Regions from separate parts of the Homo sapiens genome. Here region 2 is linked to region 1. Evidence: fine-mapped expression QTL. Tissue or cell type: whole blood. Region 1 holds a variant in brackets; the other region holds the start of a gene. All regions are shown on one strand. Distances are from middle to middle.

What was found. PIP is the estimated chance that this variant, and not a neighbour inherited with it, causes the effect.
Region 2: it holds the start of ALOX15B, and the variant in region 1 is fine-mapped to the expression of ALOX15B in whole blood (INTERVAL, PIP above 0.99).

What each region holds. Positions count from the first base shown.
Region 1 is chr17:8,061,633-8,066,888 of GRCh38, forward strand. No RefSeq gene overlaps it. Among named protein-coding and RNA genes, the nearest start is that of ALOX12B, 23 kb to the right of the region's middle. RefSeq lists an enhancer at 2,715-3,216. The variant A/G (reference allele first, on the strand shown) is at 2,631.
Region 2 is chr17:8,036,579-8,041,578 of GRCh38, forward strand. It overlaps ALOX15B (arachidonate 15-lipoxygenase type B), which reads left to right and starts at 2,481. Exons shown (of 14, transcript NM_001141.3): 1 at 2,481-2,724; 2 at 2,808-3,027; 3 at 3,324-3,405. The coding sequence starts at 2,578.

The sequences.
Region 1 (5,256 bases):
GCAGTTATATCTGTATTGGAAGATTGTAATCAACCTGTTAATATAATCTCTGACTCTGCTTACGTATTCCAAGCTGCCAAAATGGTAAAAACAGCTTTAGTAAAACATATTTCTGATGATCAGTTAAATTTCTTGTTTAGTTCACTTCAACAAGCAGTTAGGACTCAAAATTTTCCCTTTTATATTACACATATTTAGGCTCACACAAACTTACCAGGACCTTTAACCCTATTAAATAATCAAGCAAATTTATTAGTGACGCCTGTTCTAACAGTGTCCGGCCTCTGAGCCCAAGCTAAGCCATCATATCCCCTATGACCTGCACGTATACATCCAGATGCCCTGAAGCAACTGAAGAATCACAAAAGACGTGAAAATGGCTGGTTTCTGCCTTAACTGATGACATTACCTTGTGAAATTCCTTCTCCTGGCTCAGAAGCTCCCCTACTGAGCACCTTGCAACCCCCGCCCCTGCCCGCCAGAGAACAACCCCCTTTGACTGTAATTTTCCACTACCTACCCAAATCCTATAAAAGGGCCCCACCCCTATCTCCCTTCGCTGACTCTCTTTTCGGACTCAGCCCACCTGCACCCAGGTGAAATAAACAGCCTTGTTGCTCACACAAAGCCTGTTTGGTGGTCTCTTCACACAGACGCGAACAAAAGCTCAAAACTTCCATTCCCTAATTCATGTAAATGCTGCTGGATTAAAAAATAAATATTCATTTACCTGGAAACAAGCTAAAAATATAGTACAACATCCTCAGTGCCAAGTGCTACAGCTACCCACCCAAAAACCTGAAGGTAACCCTAGGGGGCTTCAACCAAATGCAGTGTGGCAAATGGACATGACTCATGTCCCATCATTCGGAAAACTTTCTTTCGTACATGTTACTGTTAATACTTTTTCTCGGTTTATCTGGGCTACACGCCAAACTGGAGAAAGCACAGCTCACGTAAAACGACATTTATTATCTTGTTTTGCAGTCATGGGTGTGCCACAGAAAGGAAAAATGGTCTGGTGGAAGGATACCAGAACCAAAACTTGGAAATTAAGAAAAAGTATTACTTGGGGGAGGGGTTTTCCTTGTGTTTCACCAAGAGACAATCAAACACTCATTTGGATACCCAATAGACATTTAAAATTCTACAATGAACCCTACACCGACCGGTCAGAAAAAAGGAAAGAATCAAAAGAGAAAGAAGACCGGTCCCTTCGACCTGTCTTTTCGGGAGCTGAGGAAAATGGTGAAGCTGAGCGTCTCGGAGAAAAAACAGAAGACGGAGAAGACTCGCTAGGCTACACCACTGACATGGGGACAGATAAAGAAGCTGACTCAATTGGCAGAGGACACCCTAAAGGAGAAACAACTAGCGATTACACCGGGTAATATGATCTTGGCTGCCTTGATGGTAATCACCACGGCGGTAAGTCTCTCTGCTGTTTCAGCTAAGCAAAATTTTACTACTGGGCTTATGTTCCATTTCCTCCTTTGATTAGACCTGTCACTTGGATGGACTCCCCTACTGAAGTTTATACAAATGGTAGTATCTGGATGCCTGGGCCGACTTATGATAGCTGTCCTGCATAGCCTGAGGAGGAGGGCATGTTAATGAATGGGATAATTGGGTATAAATACCCTCCAGTTTGTTTAGGAATTGCTCCTGGATGTTTGCCATTACAAATACAAAGTTGGATGGTCTACGTACCTCCTCATAATCGTTCTCAACCTAGTTATCACGTAGTGAGTGGAATGTCTTTTCAACCCATCAGGACTGTAAAAACTTAAGGGGATAGTTATTATCAGTCAAATATAAAAGTCCAAAATTGCAAGCCTAAGGGATTGGCTTGCCCTAAAAGGAATCCAGAATGGTCAGAAAAATGAGAAATTCTTACTTGGGAGGTTTGTGTGGCAGATAATGCGGTAGTTTTGCGAAATGGTTCTCATGGGGTCATTATAGACTGGGCTCCTAAGGAATCTTTTGCTAGAAATTGCACCGGACAAAACGCTGGGTGCGCTGGGGACTCCTTTATGATCGAATATAGAAATGATCCATATAATCCCCCCACTTTAGTTAGAAGATTTGAATCAACATACCCATTAAAGTGGGAAGATAAAGATACTGCTCCCCCTCCACCAAAAATTAGTCCGGTCGTGGGTCTGGAACATCCAGAATTGTGGAAGTTGCTTATGGCGACCTCCGGAATGAGAGTGTGGAAAGGGGAAGCGTCCTGGGGAACAAAAGGTAATAAGCCACTCTTTACTATGCCTTCTCCCTCTGCCCACTCCCCCGCCCCCCGAAAGGAAGACCTCCAGGTGACGCTCCCTGAGGACTCGGGCCAGGTGCTGCTGCTGCGTTTGCACAAGGCGTCCCCCGCCTCCCCTCCCCTCTGCCACCCCTCCCCCCGCCGGCCTCCCCGCCTCCCCCACCTCACCCCTACCCCCTCCGCCCCCCGCCCCCCGCCACGCTGCCTCGCCCCCTCTAGGTCCGGCCCAGACTCCGGGGTCTGCCGCTGGGTCCAGCTGAGGCTGCTGGGGACCCCCTCCGCTCCCCCTTACCAGTGGCTGGAGGGGGCAGGCAAAGGGCAGGGCCGGGGCTGCAGGAGGGGCATGGAGGGAGCGAGGGGG[A/G]CCAGGGTGGTCATGGGTCAGGGGAGGGGGGCTGGTGTGGACACAGTGGGGAGGGGGGAGGCAGAAAGGTGACATGAGGGGCACGGGAAGGAGGAGGTGGGATGGTTGGGAGGAACCATACTCAGGGAGGGGAGGATGGAAGATAAGTGGGGGAGGGGAGCACCGGCTCTGACAAGAGGATTAGGTGGGGAAGTTGAGTGGTGGATCAGTGAGTGGAAGAGGGAGAAGCTGGTGGAAAGAGAACAGGCCTGTGAAGCAGAGGGGTTGGGGGCAGAACATCGTGGCCCAGTATTGGGGGTGGTGGGTGTAGCTATGTCTTCTCTTTCCTCTTCCCACCGACTTTACTCTTTGGTCCCCTCTGGCCTGGGCTGTTGAGTTGGGGCTCAGTGAACGGATGGGGACGACCTCAGGTGCTGAAGCAGGTGCTGAAGCAGGGTCTGCCGTGGGGGGAAGGTGGAGTGGGCAGGGCTTCTCCATCCCTGGGGGAAGAGGCAAAGCAGACGCAGAGGCCAGGGGCTGGCCAACACCCTGGTTCAAAGATGCTCCCACCCCAGGTCTGGGGAGAGGAGGGGAGAGGCTGGGGGCTAAGATCTCCCTTTCTGCACCTGGATCCCCTCCACAGCCTGGGCCATTCTGTCTTTGTTTCTGCAGGAACACTGCCCTGAAACTGCAGGACTGCTGGGCAGCCAGGGGTCTGGAAAAGGGATCAGTGTACCTTCATCTTCCCCACACCAAGGTGTCAGGTCCGCAGGGTGAGGGAGGAAGGGCGAGGTGGCTGCAGCAGGGCAAGAGGGTCCTTGGTGGCAACCTTGTGGGACTGAGAACCAGAAAGCCAAAATTAGAACATTCTGGAAATCACAGGACTTGTTCTGTGCTGCCACCAGTTCCTACCTGTCCTTTGAAGAAGCTCACTTCTGCCCTGAGAATGTGCACGTCCTGCCATTGTGCTCGGCTCACTGCAACCTCTGCCTCCTGGGTTCAAGCGATTCTCCTGCCTCAGCCTCCTGAGTAGCTGGGACTACAGGCACCCACTACCACACCTGGCTAATTTTTGTATTTTTAGGAGAGACGGGGTTTCACCATGTTGGTCAGGCTGGTCTCGAACTCCTGACCTCCTGATCTGCCCACCTCAGCCTCCCAAAGTGTTGGGATTACAGGGGTGAGCCACCACGCCCAGCCCAGCAGTGGCTTCTGTGTGGGAAGAAGGTCAGGGCTGAAGGACCCTGGGAGGATGCCCCACCCAACATGTCCTCTCTCATCGTGGGGTAATTGCCCATGTTTGCCCAGCCATTCTCACCTATCAGGGCTTCCAAAAGAATGGCCAAAGTAAGTTCTAACAACTTTGCTTCTTTGCCAAGGCAAGCACCAATGCTACTTTTCTGCCCTCTCTGGATGCCCGTGACTTCGGTCCCACAGGAAGCCAAGCTCCTGAGGCAGCTGAAATTCAGTCAGGGGACTGGGGTCTGTGTACTGATCTACACCCCACTTCATACCTACTTCTTCAAACTGTCCCCAACACTGGGAACACCTGTCCTTGAATATCCTCAGCAATTTAAGGGGAAAAAAAGGCTGAAGCAGAAAGACTTTTTCCTTCCAAAATTGTGCCTGCTTGCTTGGGGGCCTAGGCATGCAGACTTGAAAATAAATCAAGCTTGGGTGGGGCATGGTGGCTCCCGCCTGTAATCCCAGCACTTTGGAAGGCCGAGGCAGGCCAGGCAGGGTGAGGAGGATCACAAGGTCAGGAGATCGAGACCATCCTGGCTAACATGGTGAAACCCTGTCTCTACTAAAAATACAAAAACAAAATTAGCCAGGGTGGTGGCGGGTGCCTGTAGTCCCAGCTACTCTGGAGGCTGAGGCAGGAGAATGGCATGAACCCAGGAGGCAAAGCTAGCAGTGAGCGGAGATCGCACCACTGCACTCCAGCCTGGGCGACAGAGAGAGACTATAGAAAGAAAGGAAGAAAGAAAGGAAGGAAGGAAGGAAACTAAGCTTAGGAGGCCGAGGCAGGTGGATCACCTGAGGTCAGGAGTTTGAGACCAGCCTGACCAACACAGCAAAACCCCGTCTCTACTAAAAATACAAAAATTAGCCACGCATGGTGGCAGGCACCTGTAATCTCAGCTACTCAGGAGTCTGACGCAGGAGAGTTGCTTGAACCTGGGAGGCAGAGGTTGTAGTGAGCCGAGATTGCGCCACTTCACTCCAGCCTGGGCGAAAGAGCGAAACTCCGAATAAATAAATAAATAAATAAACAAACAAGCAAACCAAGCTGGAAGATTCAGTAGTGCTCACTCTCCAATATCCTTGTTGCCGCTGGGTGCACGATGCATTTAAACTATACAGGTCAAACTCTTGGTTCAGAAACCCTAGCACCAGTGCCACGCCCCAAAGCAATGCAACCTCTTATTAAATGATCACTCTGGTTTAACAAATCATCTACACTGCCTTGTGACAAAGTAGCAGGAGAATGGGACCCGGGACTGGTGAGTTTTGGCAGGGAATCAAAAGGGCCTCTCTGAGCGGAAGCCCGGAAGGACGGGCCGTTCTGGTATCCAGCATTCTTTAGTATTCCAGTTTTCTCAAATTCAACTTATCCTAGGTGAGGTCTTAGTGCACATCACAG
Region 2 (5,000 bases), 25 kb before region 1:
AAGATCAGCCTGGTCAATGTGGTGAAACCCCATCTCTATTAAAAATACAAAAATTAGCTGGGCATGGTGGCAGGCGCCTGTAATCCCAGCTACTTAGCAGGCTGAGGCAGGAGAATCGCTTAAACCCAGGAGGCGGAGGTTGCAGTGAGCACAGATTGCGCCACTGCACTCCAGCCTGGGCAACAGAGCGAGACTCGGTCTCAAAAAAAAAAAAAAAAAATTAAACATACTGTTACCATATGATCCAGCAATTCTACTACTAGGTATATATCCTAAAGAATTGAAAGTAAGAACTGGAGCGTGCAATATTGGTTTTCTGTTCCTGTGTTAGTTTGCTAAGGATAATGGCCTCCAGCTCTATCCATGTTCCCACAAAGGACATGATCTCATTCTTTTTTTTTTTTTTTTTGAGACGAAGTCTCGCTCTATCACCAGGGCTGGAGTGCAGTGGCACGATCTTGGCTCACTGCAACCTCCGCCTCCCGGGTTCAAGTGATTCTCCTGCCTCAGCCTCCTGAGTAGCTGGAATTGCAACCTCTGCCTCCCGGGTTCAAATGATTCTCCTGCCTCAGCCTCCTGAGTAGCCGGAATTACAGGCAGTCACCACCACACCCAGCTAATTTTTGTATTTTTAGTAGAGATGGGGTTTCACCATGTTGGTCAGGCTGGTCTCGAACTCCTGACCTCGTGATCTGCCTGCCTCAGCCTCCCAAAGTTCTGAGATTACAGGTGTGAGACACCATGCCTGACCATGATCTCATTCTTTTTCATGGCTGTATAGTATTCCATGGTATATATGGAATATACATGATAAGTCACTCTCACTTCAGTTGGCTTTCATGAAACACTGTGACAGGCACAAGAGGACAAAGTGTCTGCCGGCATCGTTCTCCTCCTACCTCATTGACTGAACTTTGCTGCTTCCACTCCTTTGCATGACTTCCAAATATCAGAGGACCTTAGGGCACAGCTTGTGCCTCTTCTCTTCTCTACTTATAGGATATTCTCTGCCTAGTGATCTCCACCAGCCTGTGGTATAGATGTACCTGTGTGCTTGTGACTCAAAGATGCACACCTGCAGTCCTGAGCTCTATGCCCAGACGTGGGTTCTCCACTTGGATGTCTAATGGCCATCTCAAACTTAGCATCTCCAGACCGAAAACCCCAAATCTGTTATGTTATTCCCCCAAAGCCCAAATCCATAACTTCCCCTTGGCATCTCTCCCCCAAATCCCTCCCTCACTGCACTCTTGCCTTTCCCTCCTCCAACAAGCCAAGCTTTTCCTAACCACAGGGCCTCTTCAGGAACAGTTTCCTCTGCACAAAACTCTGTTCCCCAGACAGATCCTTTCACCTCCTCTGAGGCTCTGAACGCCTCCCTTCCCACCTCTGCTTCTCACTCCTTCACATTAGTCTGTTTCATTTCCTTCATTGCACTTATTATCATCTGAAATTATGTGTTGGTTTACTTATTTTCTCTCACACTTGATTTTTTTTTTTTAGACCGAGATTTGCTCTGTCGCCCATGCTGGAGTGCAATGGCACAACTTCACCTCACTGAAACCTCCGCCTTCCGGGTTCAAGCTATTCTCCTGCCTCAGCCTCCTGAGTAGCTGGGACTACAGGCGCCCGCCACCACGCTTGGCTAATTTTTTTGTATTTTTAGTAGAGATGGGGTTTCACCATGTTGGCCAGCAACTGTGCCTGGCCTCACACTTGATTTTTAATCTCCATGAGAGCAAGCACTAGGTCTTGCCTGGGCCTTTATCAATAGCAGTGAGCATAGCACCTGGCACAGAGGTAGTTCTGAACATTAATTATTGAATGAAATAAAATAATGAATGTAGGCTGGGCGCGGTGGCTCACGCCTGTAATCCCAGCACTTTGGGAGGCCGAGGCAGGCGGATCATGAGGTCAAGAGATCAAGATCATCCTGGCCTACATGGTGGAACCCCGTCTCTACTAAAATACAAAAATTAGCTGGGCATGGTGGCACTCGCCTGTTGTCTCAGCTACTGGGGAGGCTGAGGTAGGAGAATCACTTGAACCCAGGAGGAGGAGGTTCCAGTGAGCCGAGATCATGCTGCTGCACTCCAGCCTGGCGACAGAGCAAGCCTCTGTCTCAAAAATAAATAAATAAATAAATTTTAAAAATAATGAACGCAGGCCCAAGAAGAGTTGTGGGAAATGGGGTGATATTTTTGCATAGACTTCTAAGGCTAAGAAGGAAAACAAACAGACGTGGTGGGCACAAATCTACCCCCACCCCAACTGGGTCCCAACTCTAGGCTCTCTGGCCTGGCACCACCACTGAAAGGCCCCGTTCCCCAAACCTCAGGGTATTCTTAGTCCCTCCTGTTCCCAGCGCTGCCAATCCCCCGCCCACCCCCACTTTAGTTGCGTGTTCCAGCCTCTCCGCCCCGCCCCTCCCCGCCCTGAAACGGACGTGCTTTTTAGAGGAGTCCACTGGGCTTGGAGTCAGTGGCAATAACCAGGGGCAATAACCAGGCGTGTCCCAGGGGGGAGCCCCGCTCTGCAGCCCTGTGCGCCGTAGAGAGCTGGACTTAGGCTGGCAGCATGGCCGAGTTCAGGGTCAGGGTGTCCACCGGAGAAGCCTTCGGGGCTGGCACATGGGACAAAGTGTCTGTCAGCATCGTGGGGACCCGGGGAGAGAGCCCCCCACTGCCCCTGGACAATCTCGGCAAGGAGTTCACTGCGGGCGCTGTGAGTGCGTGGGAGTGGATGGGGTGGAGGTGAAGGGGGCGAGCAGGAGGGTCCGGCCTGACGCATACTTAACCTCCCCTCAGGAGGAGGACTTCCAGGTGACGCTCCCGGAGGACGTAGGCCGAGTGCTGCTGCTGCGCGTGCACAAGGCGCCCCCAGTGCTGCCCCTGCTGGGGCCCCTGGCCCCGGATGCCTGGTTCTGCCGCTGGTTCCAGCTGACACCGCCGCGGGGCGGCCACCTCCTCTTCCCCTGCTACCAGTGGCTGGAGGGGGCGGGGACCCTGGTGCTGCAGGAGGGTACAGGTGAGGGGCGGGCCGGGCTGGGGCTGCAGGGGGAGCACAGGAAGGGGTAGGGGACTGGGGGTTGGGGAGAAGGGCAGGTGAAATGGAGAGGTGAGCTGGTGTGGCCACAGAGTAGCGGGCAGAGGAGAGGGAATGGCGGAGCCTTGGGGAGCGGGAGGTAGCAGCCTGGTGTAGGAGAAACTGTACTTATGGGAGGAGGGGACCTGGTAGAGGGTGGCAATCGTGGAGACTGTGTGGCTGGTGGTAGTGATGGTGAGTTTCTCTCCCCACCCCAACCTACTCCCCTTCTCCCACAGCCAAGGTGTCCTGGGCAGACCACCACCCTGTGCTCCAGCAACAGCGCCAGGAGGAGCTTCAGGCCCGGCAGGAGATGTACCAGTGAGGAGGGGGTTACTGATGGGGGAGGGTGTGCCCAAACGATGAGGGGCAGCTTGAGTGTCCTGGTCATGACAGAGATTAAAAGCCCCTGCCTCCACCTCTCCTATCAAAGCTGCTCCTGGGATCAGCAGCGTCTACAGGAACGTATTAGAAATGCAAATTCTCAGGCCACCTCCAACCTACTACGACACTGAGGGTGTAGAGTGGGAATTTTTGTTTTGACAAGCCTTCCAGATGACTCTGGTGGCCACTGATGTTTGAAAAACACTGCTCTAGGGCCAGGTGCCGTGGTGGCTCACACCTGTAATCTCAGCACTTTGGGAGGCTGAGGGAGGCGGATCACTGGAGGTCGGGAGTTCGAGACCAGCCTGGCCAACAGGGCGAAACCCCATCTCTACTAAAAATACAAAAATCAGCTGGGTAGGGTGGCGGGCACCTGTATTCTCAGCTACATGGGAGGCTGAGGCAGAAGAATAGCTTGAACCCGGGTGGTGGAGGTTGCAGTGAGCCGATCACGCCATTGCACTCCAGCATGGGGGACAGAGCAAAACTCCATCTCAAAAAAAGAAAAAAAAAAAGGAAGGAAGGAAAAGGAAGGAAAGAGAGAAAGAAAGAGAGAGAAAGAAAGAAAGAAAGAAAGAAAGAAAGAAAGAAAGAAAGAAAGAAAGAAAAGAAAGAGAAAGAAACTGCTTTAAATGCCTTACCTTTGCTGGTGTCTTCCTTGCCCTGGGACTTTTTCATGCATCGGCTTGTTGTGTCCTCCCAGAAATCTGAGTAGAGCCAGAAACACGCCCTTCAAGCCCCAGGAAACTCACCCTCCAGGGCTAGCAAGGGGTGAGATGGGGGCTCTCTCTGTGCTCTGGGCTCAGCATTGGAGATCACAGGGGAAAACTGGGACTTGGAGATAACAGAGGAGTTGGGGCCGCTAGTGAGGATTCCCTTGGCACAAAGCCAGGAACTGCATTCAGAAACAGATTTTCAAAAGATCTTGATCCGGCCAACTCATCTGCTATCTAAAGCCTGGGCTGCAGGCTTTTGCTCCTGGTCTGTGGGATCAGAGCAGCCACAGGCTCATTTGGTTCCTGGTGATTCTCCATGTGTCATGAATTCCACCCCTAAGGAAACCATTGCACCAAATCTGGCAGCAACAGCCCCAAGAGAGGGAATAGACATTGAGATCTACTGTGTCCATGGAGACCCAGAGTCAGCCTAGGCCCTGCCAAAACGAGCTGTGAGATCTTAGACCAATTTTTTCATCTCTTCAATTCTTATTTTCTTCTGTAAAAGAAACTAAGAATACCAATCTCGTTTGGGTTAGGAGGAACAAATGAGAAAATGGTTAAGAATGTAGGTGGTCAGCTGCTAAGTCTTGCACAACTGTGTGCTCTTGCTGTTGTTCCTGTCTTTCAGTTCACTCTGTTCCAACACTCTAGGCTCTTATAAAACGTACAGTGAGGTCTCAGATCCATTGCAACAGCATTGCCTGGGAGCTTGTTAGAAATCAGAATCTGCATTTAACCAAGATCTCTATGTGAGAGGGATTCAAGTCTGAGAGGAAGGGTTTGGCCACCACCTGGTGGCAGTGTACTTTAATT